Homo sapiens: one gene and its partners. The gene in region 1 interacts genetically with each later gene. Each region holds a gene or a part of one and is shown on either strand. Other genes may lie near its edges.

Region 1 (3,500 bases):
GTAAGGGTGAATGTGGGTTTAAAAAAAGAAATACTCTCTCAACATCAAAAGAAAAGGACATAGGAATAGATGGTTTAATACTTTGTGAAAAGGAAATACATACACCTTTCCACAGCTAATTTAAAAGAGGAAGAATAAATGTAAAGTTGACAATAATACAGATAAGAAAGTAATAGGCTGGGTGTGGTGGCTCATGCCTGTAATCCTAACCCTTTGGAAGGCTGAGGCCAGAGGATTGCTTGAAGCTATGAGTTCTAGACCAACCTGGGCAACTTGGCATTTTTTTTATTTAGCTGGGCATGGTGGTACACTCCTGCATTCCTAGCTCCTTGGGAGAGAGGCAGGAAAATCGCTTGAGTCCACAAGTTCAAGGCTGCAGTGAGCCATGATTGCACCACTGTACTCCAGCCTGGTGACAGAGAGAGACCTTGTATTTTAAACAAAAAAAAAAAAAAAAAAAAAAAGAAGAAGAAGAAGAAGAAGGTAATAGCTTGGGATAGCATCTGAATTTCTTAATTAGGAATGAAAAGTTTGCTTTTATATTCTTAGGTTGGTTACACACAGAAAAGTTCATAGCCTCTTTCATCCTCACTGAGGAAAACAATTTTCCATTCTTTTCTAGATGTTTTAGTTCATTTTGAAAATTAGTTTAGAATGGTATGTCTCTTATTATTCTAAACTCTTATCTTTGATAATTTTAGAGAAAAGAGACAGGATACTTAAGGTTCTGGTTTCTGTTGCACTTTTCAGTTAATTGATACATGTTCAATTTTATAAGTAATATATTACATTCTATTATAAAGAACCTCCTTGAACCCAGAAGTTAGAAGTTACAGTGAGCTATGATCATACCACTGTACTCCAGCCTGGGTGACAGAGCAAGACCCTGTCTCTTAAAATTATTTAAAAAAAAAAAAAGGGACCCCTGCCTTTCGGGGTCCAATTACTATAAAGAACCTCAAGATTTTCGATATCAACTGAAAAAAATGAAGGAAAAATAAATCATTGCAGTATACGTTCTTTTTATTTGTATTGAAATCGTTAACATGTTCTGTTGTTGATCTTTGGAGGGTACATCATCCAGTTCCTATCCAAAGGAACAATCACAGCCATGGTTTTTCTTTTAAAAGATGCTAGAGAATTTTCTCCGTCTCTGTCTCCACCCCTCTCAGTGTGTCTACGTTTGGGTCAAGAGCATATTTGCAACCAATGGATACACGCCAGTACTTATACTGCCTAAAGCCAAAGAATGAATTTGCAGAAAAAGCAGGCATCATTAAGGGAGTAACAGTAATTGGAAAATTGGATATAGTATGGAAAACAAATCTAGGTGAAAGGGGAAGGTTACAGACCAGCCAACTTCAAAGAATGGTGAGTCTGGAAAAAACTTCGCTGGGGTTTTGGTGTGTGAAAGACAGGTAGTTAGAACAACTTAATTTTTTCTACATCCAGCAGTAAAAAATTGGAGCACTATAAAAGGCATTACTACTACTGGAGCAGAAAAGATTAATAGTGTCACTGATAGGTAGGTCGAAGACTGGTGTTGCCATGAATGAAAAATGGTCAAATGTTAATTTATCCTTAATACACGTGTTCTTTATCACACAGAAATTAAAATAACTGTTATTAAGTGTCTCTCCTTTGGTAACACATGCTCACTCTTCTTCTGATTTCCAAACACATTAAGGTTTTCTATTTTGCAATGTCCTGAAACTCTTGGACTTACTTCATTCACCTACTCAGTTCCTACCATTTTTAAGATGTTAAAAATCTGAGGCATCTCCTCAGAAGGTGAGTTCTACTAAAGTTATCTTATAAGCATTGGTTGCATATTTTACCTAATTTCTTCTCTGAGAGTAGGGATAGCTACCAGGCTTCTTTTTCTTATGCTTGTAAGAATATACGACAGGATTCTCCTCCCTTTATGCTGAATATTACCTGTTTTGACATATTCCAAATTTTACTTTTCTTTCCACTGTTTGAGGCAATAATTTTTAAAAAATGATGATGATGATTCCTGGGCCCACTTAAATATAGCCGTTAGTTATTTTTCTGCCATGGCCTGTTCCAAGCCTTCGTGTTGTTATAATCCATCCTCATCTGTGCGTCTTGTAAAAAGTCATGATTTTCTTCCTGGCTCCTTTCAACATCATCCCCCTCTTTCTTTAGAAAATAACTTTACCTATTTAGAGTTACACACATAGAAGCTACAGCATCTGGAAAGTGTCCCTTCAACTCCCTGAAATTTCTTTACTGACTACTTACCTGTGAGATTCATCTTAACTCTACTGAACATGGAATAATTATATAACAAAAACAGTCCAGGTCTGCCAGGCTATTCCACAGGCAGTAGCTGCAAAAGAATTTAAAATGAGAGACAAGTAAAGTGAATCAGAAGTATTTTCTTAGAACATCAGCTTGGAAACCCAACAGCTGTTGAGTAAATGTGCTGCTGTGGTGCCTTCATTAAAATGGAAAGGTTTTGTGATAGATATACATTAACTGTGTTGCTTGTTTTCTTAGGCTCCAGGTTATGGAGATGTTAGGTTGTCTTTGGAGGCAATACCAGATACCGTAAACCTTGAAGAACCTTTTCATATTACCTGTAAAATAACAAACTGCAGGTAATGCCACTGTTTGTAGATGGATGTCCTTTCTACCTCACCTGCCTAGAAGATAATTTTAAAATCTTTTTGTTACTATCTCCTTTTAAGTTTTCCTCTTGACATACAGCCTTCTCTGATGTTGATATTGAGTACTGTAAAATTCTTCATCTGGTAGCAGTATAATTACATATTTTTAAGGGCCTATTGTATTATGCATCTTCTGTATTTTATTTCATTCATTTGTCACACCCTATGAGGTAGGTATTCATTGTTTATACTTCCTTCACCAAAACATGAACTAATAGGTTCTTATGTATTAATATATTATGAATTGAAGTAGCAAGATTTTTTGAGGCATGCTTGTACTTGAGCTGTATCTTGAGTATTAAGAAACCAAACATTGCTTATGGATTTAATGTAAGGGGAGATCATTGATTCGAAAACTGGGTTTTGACAGTAAAGAGAGAGCATAATCTGAACTGTCAGGAAGCAAAGAGCACAGGGCTTTGAAACCAGAAAAAAATAGAATTAAGTTCCAGTCCTATGCCCTCTGCTCCTACTTGTATTACCACTTGGTTTGTATTATTATTTGGGGTATTTTTATAATATTGCAGTGATGAATCCTAGTCCTCTTAGTGTGAATGTATAATCCTTTTAATTCCATATTTATTCTTTTTGGTATTAGAAAGATAGGAAATATTTATCCTTCAAAATTACAGAAATACCCACTTCCTCTATGAAGCTACCTAGACTTTCCAAAGCACAGGTATTCATGCCTTCTCCATCATAGAAAATTTTAACTTAGTTTTTTAGTGACACTCATATATTGTGTATTTAGTGACACTCATATATTACTGTAAGTATTAGTCTCTTTCTCACTGGACTGGAATTATT
Region 2 (4,265 bases), on another chromosome or scaffold:
TCCAGCTTGGGACATGAGAGCAAACTCTACACTGTCAACATGTTTAAAGTCTGATTTGAGAAAGTAGAAAGACTCTGCCCTTATACTTCCCAGCCAGAGTTCAAGGAAAGGTTTCAGAGTTCAATGCAAGATTTGAAATCCACCATGAATTCTCGGTAAGTATGATGGAGGTACCCCATTTTGCTGAAGAGAGAGGATAGAGGGTATTGGAACACACACGAACACACACACACACACACACACACACACACACACACACACCATTCATCCACGGAGTTCTAGACCCTCCAAAGAGCCCCAGCTCACAGCCTCAACACAAAGCTCTCACCCCAGATGGTCCCCTGGTAACAATGGGCTGAAGGAGTGGGGGTAGGGGGGCTCGAAAAGGATAGTACAGCCAAGGCATATTCTTTGGAAAATCCAGCTGGGGAGAGGGATGATGTGAGATATGAGGGATTGGGGGTGGGGGGTCCATGGAAAATAAAAAGTCTTTGCCTGTTGTAGAAATATAAATAAAGTACAAGCATAAGGGGATTCTTTGGGGGCCGGGAAACTCATTCCACATCGCTTCGGGAGAAGGGCAATCCACTTAAGAATTATGGTGTGGAAAGAGTGGGAAAAACAGAAAATGAGGCCTGCTACGAAGTTGCAGAAATCGCCATGAGTCTGAACTCTTCAAAGATTTTAAGGTTCCCCCACAAAAAACGGCCCCACGAGTTGAACAAACAAACTCCACAAGGTTTCTCCCCTATTGATTTTCTTTCCCCTTTAATTCTGCAAGTAACATCTTTTAGCCTACCCCAGCCCCAACTTATTTATTTTTTTTTTACAAGCTGTAAACCACCCATTACAAGATCTTGGCCAATCTTCCCTCCCTGCCCCCAACATCCGGAGTTGGGGGTGGGAAAGACCAGTAATGGGTTTCTTCCACTGGAGACGCTATGGACCCCTGAACACAGCTTCACAGCACACCCCCGCGGCCCCCCCACCCCCCCCGAAAAGAGCTCTTTCCTACCTTTGTTTTTTGGGCACCGAATGTTCAATCTCTAAGCGTTTTCCTTGTAATTCTACTTTCCCTAAAGATTAAAAAAAAAAAATTACCATGAGAGCTTGAACAGGGGTTGGGGGTGGGAAGAGGAAGGGGAAAAGACACTAGGATAATTCAGGAGTTACTGGGATTCGAGATCTTCCTAGGAATCCAGGCAGTGGCTTCCGCATCCAGATGGGAAAAAGGTTGCTCTAGGAATGGTGGAGTCTGTAAATTCGTTATTATTCATTTTTTAATTTTTGCTTTATTAAATCACTGAGGCTTGTTGAGTGGATCGCTCTGGAATCCCGATTTGGGAAAGGTGCGAGGCCATTTGTGTGGGTGCGCTGCCTACACAGCTCCCAGATGTGGGAAGGAGCCAGGAAAGAAAGGGCTCCCCGTTCCTCAGAAAGTGGGGCGCGGGGCGGGAGGCAGTGTGCAGAATGAAACTTTATTTTTCTCTGTTGGCCAGGAAGACGGGCTTTGGGCCACGGAGCGGTCACCTGTCGGGGCTGGTTTGGGAAGGGGTGGACCTGGGGGAGCGGAGCGGGGCCTGGCGGGGAGGGTCCCTCACTGCCACCGCGCGCGCCTCTCGGCCCAGCCTCGGCGTCTCGGGAAGCAGCATGGCGACCCGGCGCCGCCGCCGCCGCGCCACCCCGCTCACGCCCCACTTTCAAATCAAAATGGCTCAAGCCCCAGGCCCTGGGCGGGAGGCAAGACCCCCTTCCTTGCAAGTCCTGCTGGAGGGCTGCATTCCCCACGCGAAGCGGACAGATCGCAGGCGGTCCGGGTACCCCTTCCACGCCTGGAAAGGCCTAAGACTGAGGAACGGGAGCCGGGGTTTTCCAGCTGGGGGGGCGTCCACCGGCGGATAGGGAGGGGCTGGGCGTGGAAATAACGCCCAGCCAGGGGTCATCCCCGTGTCCCTAAATTCAACCCCCCACTACTGCCAGTGGGGGCTCCCGCCCCGTCGGTGGGGAGGAAGGATGGGGGAAGCCAGAGCTCCTTATCTCAGGCTGGGAGAAAGGGATGAGGAAATCCCGAATGTTTCTGCGCGGGGGTGGGAGGCGCAGAGCGAGGGAGGGGGCATCGAAGGGGGTAGGTCGAGGGTGGGTACGGAGGCCAAACCCCGCAGGCCCGGGAAGAGAGGAGTTGGCGGGAGAGGAACCGGAAGGTGCGGGTCTCCGTTGTTCGGGGCTCTCGTTGTGGCTTTTCCGGGAGGTGGCTGTGTTCTTACCGGAGAAAGTTTCGATGGCCTTCATCGCCCAGTGCTCGTCCGGGCAGTCCACGAAGGCGTAGCCGGATTTGACCAAGAACTGGCCGCTGTAGGAGATCTTGTGCTCCGCAAACACTTTCTCCAAGTCCGCGGGGGTCACGCTCTCGTTGAGGTTGCCGATGTAAAGCTTGTTCATGGTGGCGGTCTCGGGGCAGGACGCGGTCCCGGGCAAGGCCGAACGAGCGGGCGCGGGCGGCGAGCCTCCTAGGCCAAGAGGCGGAGAGGCCGGCGGCAGGAGCCGCAAACTTTCTTTGCACCCCACCCCAGAAGTTGTCCCGAGCCCAGGGCGGGGAAGGCGGCCTGAGGGCGCGCAGAGGTCGCGGGAGAGTTCGGGGAGAGCCCAGGAGAAGTGCCCGCGGCGCGCAGGGAGACGGACGACACGGCGCAGCTTCTTCCCTTCGGTCCGAAACCCCTCCGAGAGGGCTGGTGTGTCACGTTTCTCCGCGGCCGCCCTGGCGCCGCCTCTAAATAAAATCGACTTGAAAAAAAATGGAGCGGAAAAAAAAAAAAAAAAAAAAAGGAGAAGCCACGTGGTGACAGCCCCCACCCACCCTGCAGGGAAAGACCCCCGACGCCACAGGGCCCCTCGGCCCTCCGGCCAAACCCGATAATCTCCCGCCTGAGGGTGGGGAACTCAACTCACCCCCGGGGTAAACTGGGGCGGTGCGGCAGCGTCCCTGAAGCTCTACAGGCCCCTTCCCCCTTTGCAAGAACCTGGCCCCTAGGGAAGCGCCCCGCCCCCACCCATCCCCCTACCCCAGCCCAAACTGGGGGAGGATGGTCCAGCCCAGATCTCACATGTCTTAAAGGGTAAAATGTACGGTTATTTTTCATTCGTTTTGGGGGGCGGGGTTGCTCACCCCTCCCCGGTTAACTGCTAGCGACTGACAGGCGGGGGACGGCCGAGACAGACAAAGAGAAGCCGAAGACTCTGGGGTCTTCAGGAGAGGGTCGCACGAGCTGGTGATTTAAAAAGAAAGGAACCTTTTCCCTAGATGTTTAAATGGGGGGGGTCTCCGCCTTCCCCACGCCAGCCCCACGAAACTCCCCCGCCTCCGGGGATGCAGGACCGGGGGACCCTGCGAGCGCGGGACTGGAAAGCTGGGAACGGGGTATCCCAGTGGAGAACGAGGAAGCCGCAGGAAATAATGTTTTGAGATCCCCACGGGAGAAAGGGTGGTTCGCACCCGGGGTCCGGCTGTTAAATGATAACGTTTCGGGGTCCTGAGGGGAACACGCGGAACTGGCCGGAGATGACTCCAGGAGACAGGAACGGTGGGAGACAAGGAAGAGGAGTGATAGCTAGGGCTAACCGGAGCGAACTGAAGGGGGAGGTCTTAGGGAGGGAGTGACCGGGTGGAGATTTGAATGGTCCCCTTTTCCCTCCCAGAGTCGGGGACAGACAGGTGGAGTTTCCAGAGCCTGCACCACCCGGGACACTGCTGGCAGCTCTCTAGGCCCTAGGTTCGGGTCTCGGAACTTTGTTTGGGGTGCAGGATTCCGATCCTGGCGGGAAGGCGGGAGAGGGACGGAGGGCGGGGGGCTAAGCGGGAAGCCCCGCCCACGTCCCCAGGTCAGACCCGCGGGGGGAGGGGGTAATTTCCGCTCCGCGCACGGGGAAGCGAGGGGCGGGAGCTTAGGGGAGGGGGCGGCGGCCACTCCCCTCCTCCTCCCGCCGTTCCTGGGGAGGGGGAAGCGGATCCGCCTGGGTCCCTTCCCTCGGCTTTGACCAACTCATTCCGGATCCTCCGGCTCCCGGAGCCCGAGGGAAGGACCCGACTGGGCAAGGGGCGACACGTGGGCGGTCGCACCCCGTCTGGGCGGTGGGGGAGGGGGCTGCTCGCCGCGCGTTTCGGAGTCCCGGATACGCGGCGGAGAGCGGGACGCGCGGTCCACGGGCAAGCCCCGGCTCCACGGCGGAGCGGCGAGCGAGGCCAACGAGTTTCTAGCGGCGGAGGCTGG
Region 3 (3,500 bases), about 44 Mb from region 1:
TCTGACATTAGAGCTATTTAAAGATAAAATGGTTTTAAATAAATTAGTTATTGGTATCTACGCATGAAATTCTATAGCACAACTACTTTTTTAAGTATAAATACAGTCAATCAAAATAAAATGTCCAATGACAAAAGCTGGTGAATGAGAAAACACTGAAACAGCTCATATTTGGGACTCACTGCCCATCCTGGAATGCCTCATATGAGTTGTAGTTTGTCTTTAATTCTTCACTGACTTAAAAAAAAAAAAAAAGAAAAACCCCAAACAGCCAAAAAAAAAACCAAAAACAAAAACAAACAAAAAACCTAGAGTCCTTACTGTAGCCTACACAATCCCTTAAAATCCAGTATTGGATTTTAGTTAGCAGGTTTCATAACTTGTGGAACAAAAGTAACTTTTTCAGGAGATAGGTCCCTAGCTAACAAGACAATAATTAGGATAACATTTCACTGATCTTGAGGTATAGAAAACCTATAAAGGTATAAAAGCAAAGGAAGAAACTCTACAGAAAAAAAAGAAATGACTACACAAAAATTTAAAACCACTATAAATGAGAAATACAATAAAATAATTAACAAACTAAATGACACAATAAGAAAAATTTTACAACATATAGGGAAAAGGATTAATTTTACCACATATAGAGTGCTCAGAGATCATCAGGACACACCAACAGAAAAACAGTCAAAGAATAGAAATAGGAAAATCACAAAAGAAATATGAAAGATAAATGAAGGTACAAAAACGTTCAACCTTACTAGTAACCACAAAAATCTTAACAGAAAAATATTTTTCTACTAACTTACTATTATAGGCAAAGCTTGTAATATGGCCAATTCTCAGTGCTTGGAGTGGGATTTTAGAGTTAATCTCAAAAAATGCTGGTGGGATTGAACATTTACCTAGTCTTTCTAGAGGGAAGATAAGCAGTACACAGCAAAAGTCCTTAAAAGACTTCAGACACTGATACAAAATGACTCTTCTAGAAAGTTATTCTCAGCAATTAATCAGAATTGCATTGTAGCATTCTTTTTGAATGCTACAAAGAAAGCTTATTACAATGTTATGGTAGTGAAGAATCGGGAGAAAAAGAATATAAGCAACATCTTAAACACAACAGTATATATTAAAATTGGATTTTTAAAAAACATACCATCAGATTGTGAGCACTGTCACAAATGAAAAACAAAATATGTACATGCAATAAGTCAAGACTTGAGAACGGGGAGAAAAGGATATGCATAAAATAAAAGACAATAAGAAATACATCCAAATGTTGGCAATGGTTTTCATGGGATTGTGCACCTGTTGGTAAATTTTAATGTTTTCTTTAGTTTCTGGCATTTTCAAAATGTGCCAGAGTTTGCGTATTACTACCTTTATAGTCAAGAGTGAGAAAGATTTGTTTTTTAAAGGGCTGAAAGTTAAGGAGAAAAATGGTCCAGTGGAAAATCTATTTTTCCCATACGGCTAGAGGTTTTGTGTCTGTATAAAATGCATACATATAAAGCTCCCTAACTCTACGTAAAATCTAGTTTCTTCCCATGTTCATTGTTTATCCTAACTGAACATTGTTCATTGTAGCATCTTAACAAATTCCAACTCTAAAAAACTATTTATCTAACGGGGTCTTGCTCCGTCAACCCAGGCTGGAGTGCAGTGGCGTGATCTTGGCTCACTGCAACTGCCTTCCGGGCTCAAGCCATCCTCCCACCTCAGCCTTCCTGAGTAACTGGGACTGTAGGTGCAGGCCACCATGCCTAATTTTTGTATTTTTTGTAGAAAAGGGGTTTTGCCATGTTGCCCAGGCTGGTCTTGAACTCCTGAGCTCAAGCAATCTACCCTCCTTGGCCTCCCAAAATGCTGGGATTACAGGTGTGAGCCACTGCGCCCAACCATTTATCTAACTTTCGACTACAAATTGCTAAGTATCAATAAGGTGATAGATAATACTGCAACCAAAAGTTCATCTATCCCTAATAAATCAACAGATGATAAAATAATGACACTCACTTATCTTTTTCCTCAATACTCTTTCAATAAGTGTTTATTCCATTTGTCATCTCATCAGTACCACTTACCTTGGCATTACCATCAGGTAAGAAGAGGTAGGCACCACTTTTGTCTCTTTTAATTGTGGTTCCATACCATGAAAATTGCACATTTACTTCATGGTGTTTACCATCTTCTTTAGTCATCATTTGCTAAAGATTAAAAAAAATAATAATAAGCAACTCACCACTAAGATGTTAAGCATGTTGCATCTGGTTCTATGTATATGACAATTTAAAAAAATAATTTCTGTACTTATCTGGTGGACCAGTGACACACAGACCACGGAGTAGCGCCACCCACAGACTATACATGTGAGCAGCAAGTGGTCAATGAAGGTGCAAAAAGCTCATGCTTCCTTTTACTCAAGAGTATTTGATACAGCTCTACTTAAGACTTTTTTCCCCTTTTGCCTAATTAATCTACACACATTGTAGCAAAAATGATAAGCATTCTATGAATTTTAGAACTATTCAGAACATACCTTCATAAGTCCAGTTTGATCAAACCGAAGTAAAACAAAGGAGTTCTCTAGTGTTATACCTTCTTCAGTATTTATCATATTCTTTATGGTGAAAATTCCGCTATCTTCTACTTTATTCTTATACAAGACATAATCAGCTAAATGTGAATTTGAACTTGCTGATTCCAAAATCTTATACACTTTCAGTCCCAATGGCGGTATATGTGCTCGAAAAGAGATCTTTAAAAGATAGGGAAGGGAATTTATTAAAGATAAATGTTATCTACTGAGAGGCAAACCATTTATATTTTTGGTAAAACCAACAAACTATCATATTTTTTAAAAAGAGAATCCAGTTGGCCCTCCATATCCACAGGTTCCATGTCCACAGTTTCAACCAATTACAGATAAAAAATGTTTGAAAAAAAAACAAAAAACAAAAAATACAAATAAAAACTATAGTATAATAACTATTTACATAGCATTTACATTGTATCAGATGTTACAAGTAATTTAGAGATGATTTAAAATACACAAGAGGATGTGTGCAGGTTATATGCAAATGCAGATGCTCCTCAACTCATGATTGGGTTATGTCCAATTAGAATTTGAAAATATCGTAAGTCAAAAAGGTGTTTAATACACCTAACCTATCCAAAATCATAGCTTAGCCTAGTCTACCTTTCATGTACTCAGAACACTTAAATTAGCCCACAGTTGGGCAGAATCACCTAACACAAATCATATTTTATACTAAATATAAATAGCTTATGTAATTTATTATATACTATACTGAAAGCGAAAAATAGAATAGTTGTATGGGTACTTGAAGTACGGTTGCTACTGAATGCACATTACTTTCACGCTATTATAAAATTGAAAAATCTAGGTTGAGCCATTGTAAGTCAGGGATCATCTGTACTATGCCATTTTATATAAAGGACTTGAGCATCCATAGATTTTGTTATCCCCAGAGGGTCCT
Region 4 (3,500 bases), on another chromosome or scaffold:
TAGAGCCCATCTGCAGTACCCACCTGACACCCCTTCCCCACCTACCTTGGGTCGTGCTCCAGTCAAGACCGCCCACGAAGAGCTTCCTGCGATTCAATGAGAAAACATTCAGGATCAAGACAGCGCTCGCCTTAGAAATGCCCCCATCCAAGCCAAGCTGAGGTCTTAATTCAAACCACAGAAGCAGCTGACGCAAACGTCCTTGTGCACGTGACGGCATACAAAGCTCACAGCAATGGCGAGTCAGCCTCGCCCATGCTGTCTGCAGACATGAAAGATGATCCCAATCCTTGCCATGGGGAGAGGACCGTGCCACAGAGCCGCACGCTGACCTCATGCGTGGCGGGCGATGAGTTCCTGGGACAGGCCAGTGGTGACGGCACCACGCTCACCTGCACTGCTGCCAAGTGGGACACAGGCTCGCTTTCCTACAGCTTTTGCGAGTATTTTATAATCAGGAAAAAGAATGTAGAAGTCTACATCTGAAATGATGCACAGTAAACTAGAAGCCTATGCCACACGGCCTCTGAATTACAGCCTGGGGCGGGGGTGGGGGGACACAGACAGAAGCCTCCCAATGAGCCTGCACTCACGAACTAACGAGAGGCCCACAGATGAAGGTGAAGGCCCTGAAGCTCCAGTCTCAGCACTGGCCCCACTTACTTACCCCCGACAAACCCGCGCCACCCCCATTCTGGGGCTGTCTCTTATTGGCAGATGAGAAGGGCCTGAAATTCAGTCTCAGCACTGGCACTTCCTGCCTGCCCCCACCAAAGACCCGCGCCACCCCCGTCCTGGGGCTGTCTCCTCCGGGCAGAAGAGCTGGAGCTCTCCCAAGGCGTCCGCCATCGACCCTGCAGCGACGCCCAAGGGCCCACTCACCTTTCCACCTCACTGCCGCTCCAGGTGGCCCCAGGGCCTTGGCTGTGCCAACTCCCAATGGGGACTGTGCCAACTCCCAATGGGGACTGTGCCACCTTGAGTCAGCCATGGCACCCACTGGGCATGTCTGAGACACCACAAGGCTTACCCAGGCACGGGGCCTTAGATGTCATTCAAGCTTCCCCCAAGCCCAGGAGGCAGGGAAGAGGTGGTTCTATCGGCGACTCTCCCATCCTGCCTGCTTTCCCTGGGAAAGAGGACACGCATTCAGAAATGAAGTCCCTGAGCTGAATCTCAGCTGTGACTCAGTGCCAGCACCATCATCACCCTTGGTCTCCAGAGAGCAAAACACCGTGCAGGCCAAAGCTCCCACCTGAGCCGCAAGAATCCTGCCAGCCTCACTGAAAGCACCATTCCCACGCGGGGCCCTGTATCCCTGACGGCCAACCACACCACCCTTGGCTTCGGCTTTCAGCAAAAACGTCGCTGTCAGGTTGAACACGTTACTGCCCCACCAGCAGCAGGAGCAACGTGCTCCTCCCTGCTCCTGCCAGCTCGCCAGGAAAGACCCCTGCAAGGTGGCTGGCACACTCATCACCTCTCATCAACCACCACCTGGGGCCTGTACACTCAGCCCCCGCGAGTCAGCCCCTGGTGAAGTGTCTGCCACAGCCAACCGCCAGGAGCTTGTCCCTGTTCCTTCTTTTTTCCCTAAGAACGACTGATTTAAATTTAGTGTGTGAAAAACAAAGCATGTTCCCACCACAGGAAAGGCACCCACTGCCGTCTTCAAAACGTCAACAAGCAACCCCCCAGCCCCGTTCTTCGGTGGGGAGGGCTGAGGCGGGAAGAATTAGAGGCGGGGTGTGCCAGCCGCCCTGTGCTTCCTGACCCTTAGAGACGAGATCTGAAAAGGCAAATTTCAGGGAAAACCATGCTGATCACGCAACAGCAACAGGCTTAGGTTGAGGCCTCATTAACTTAAAATCCTACGTCTCCCACGCACCCTTCGCAATCAGGCCAGGGAGCGTTGAGGTCAGGCCTAGAGACCGTGGGAGGAGCGAGGCCTCCGCGTGCCTCACTCTCCATAGGCTGTGCCTCACTCTCCATAGGCTGTGCCCGCGCTGAGTCAGGGCCAGCCCCGCCCACATCCCTGCCAGCAGGGCCCGGCACCCAGCAGGAGCCAGCAGCAGCCCCCACCCCATGAAGGAAGGGCCCCCAAGCCTGGCTGGAACCGACCGGAAAAATGCTCATTTACACAATCCTTTGGAATTAAAGTTCAAGCAGTTCTCAAAAAAAAAAAAAAAAACAAAACACACACACACACACACACACACACACACACACACATAAAACCCTGAAAACCAAACCAAATCCAAGTCACTTGAAGAAACAGCAGCCTGTAGTCAGCACTGCACCCACCCAACAGCCAGGTAACAGGCAGGTGTCCTCCAAGCAGCCCAGTACCCCCTCCACCCCCACCTCACTGGCAGAAGGAACTCGTCAGACCAGTCCAGTTTCGGTCTTCATTTAAATTTCAAAAATTGTGTATTAAGGGGGAAGGGCTAGAAACGCTCAGCTGAGAAACCTGAAACAGGGCCGGGGGGGTTAGATAACCTGGTATCAGTACTGTCTTTCTCAGCTGGGCGCAGATCACGCCTATAATCACAGCATTACGGGAGGCCAGGAGTTCAAGACCAGCCTGGGCAACGTAACGAGACTCCAGGTGGTGGCAGGCACCTGTAGTCCCAGCTACTTGGGAGGCTGAGGCAGAAGGATCGTTTGAGTCAAGGTCGAGGCTGCAGTGAGCCGTGATTGTGTCACTGCACTCCAGCAGGGGTGACAGAGATCTCATCTCTTAAATAAAATTAAAAAAAAAATAAAAAATACTCTTAAATAAAATTAAAAAAATAAAAAATACTCAAATACAATTTTAAAAAATAATAAATACTTTCTCAATTTTTTTTTGAAAAATTGTCTCGCTGTGTTGCCCAGGCTGGAGTGTAGTGGCGCGATCTCAGCTCACTGCAACCTCCGCCTCCCGGGTTCAAGCGATTCTCCTGCCTCAGCCTCCCGAGTAGCTGGGACTACAGGCGCCCGCCAGCTAATTTTTGTATTTTTAGTAGAGACGGGGTTTCACCATATTGGCCAGGATGGTCTCAATCTCTTGACCTCGTGATCCACCAGCCTCGGCCTCTCAAAGTGCTGGGATGACAGGCGTGAGTAGCTGCGCCCGGCCACTTTCTCAATTTTGATCACTGTGCTGTGTTCATGTGAGAGAATGTCATTGTTCTTGGGAAACAATAGATATCTCAGTGTACACATAAAGGGGACTGCATCGGTCTCCAGCTACTCTCAAATATTTCAGTAGAAACACACACAGTGGGGATGGGTGCACTGGCTCACGCCTGTAATCCCAGCACTTTGCAAGGCTGAGGTGGGCGGATCACCTGAGGTCAGGAGTTCGAGACCAGCCTGGCCAACATGGCAAAACCCCATCTCTACTAAAAATACAAAAATTAGCTGGGCTCGGTGGTGCGCACCTGTAATCCTAGCCACTCGGGAGGCTGAGCTCGAGGTGTACTGCTTGAACCCGGGAGGCGGAGGTTGCACTGAGC

The links. A genetic interaction does not mean that the proteins touch.
Region 2: changes in TRAPPC13 (region 1) and IGF2BP1 together harm fitness more than expected from each alone (negative genetic interaction), as found in Homo sapiens cells (one large-scale study listed by BioGRID).
Region 3: changes in TRAPPC13 (region 1) and MAN2A1 together harm fitness more than expected from each alone (negative genetic interaction), as found in Homo sapiens cells (one large-scale study listed by BioGRID).
Region 4: changes in TRAPPC13 (region 1) and DAZAP1 together harm fitness more than expected from each alone (negative genetic interaction), as found in Homo sapiens cells (one large-scale study listed by BioGRID).

Annotation. Positions count from the first base shown.
Region 1 is NC_000005.10:65,659,527-65,663,026, forward strand, and holds part of TRAPPC13 (trafficking protein particle complex subunit 13), read left to right. Parts: intron 1-1,172; coding exon 1,173-1,371; intron 1,372-2,523; coding exon 2,524-2,624; intron 2,625-3,500.
Region 2 is NC_000017.11:48,995,920-49,000,184, reverse strand, and holds the start of IGF2BP1 (insulin-like growth factor 2 mRNA-binding protein 1), read right to left. Parts: upstream 2,801-4,265; 5' UTR 2,440-2,800; coding exon 2,265-2,439; intron 1,077-2,264; coding exon 1,016-1,076; intron 917-1,015; exon of another isoform or gene 1-916. UniProt on the Homo sapiens protein: RNA-binding factor that recruits target transcripts to cytoplasmic protein-RNA complexes (mRNPs). This transcript 'caging' into mRNPs allows mRNA transport and transient storage.
Region 3 is NC_000005.10:109,818,927-109,822,426, reverse strand, and holds part of MAN2A1 (alpha-mannosidase 2), read right to left. Parts: intron 2,759-3,500; coding exon 2,540-2,758; intron 2,208-2,539; coding exon 2,085-2,207; intron 1-2,084. UniProt on the Homo sapiens protein: Catalyzes the first committed step in the biosynthesis of complex N-glycans. It controls conversion of high mannose to complex N-glycans; the final hydrolytic step in the N-glycan maturation pathway.
Region 4 is NC_000019.10:1,414,086-1,417,585, reverse strand, and holds part of DAZAP1 (DAZ-associated protein 1), read right to left. Parts: intron 87-3,500; coding exon 46-86; intron 1-45. UniProt on the Homo sapiens protein: RNA-binding protein, which may be required during spermatogenesis.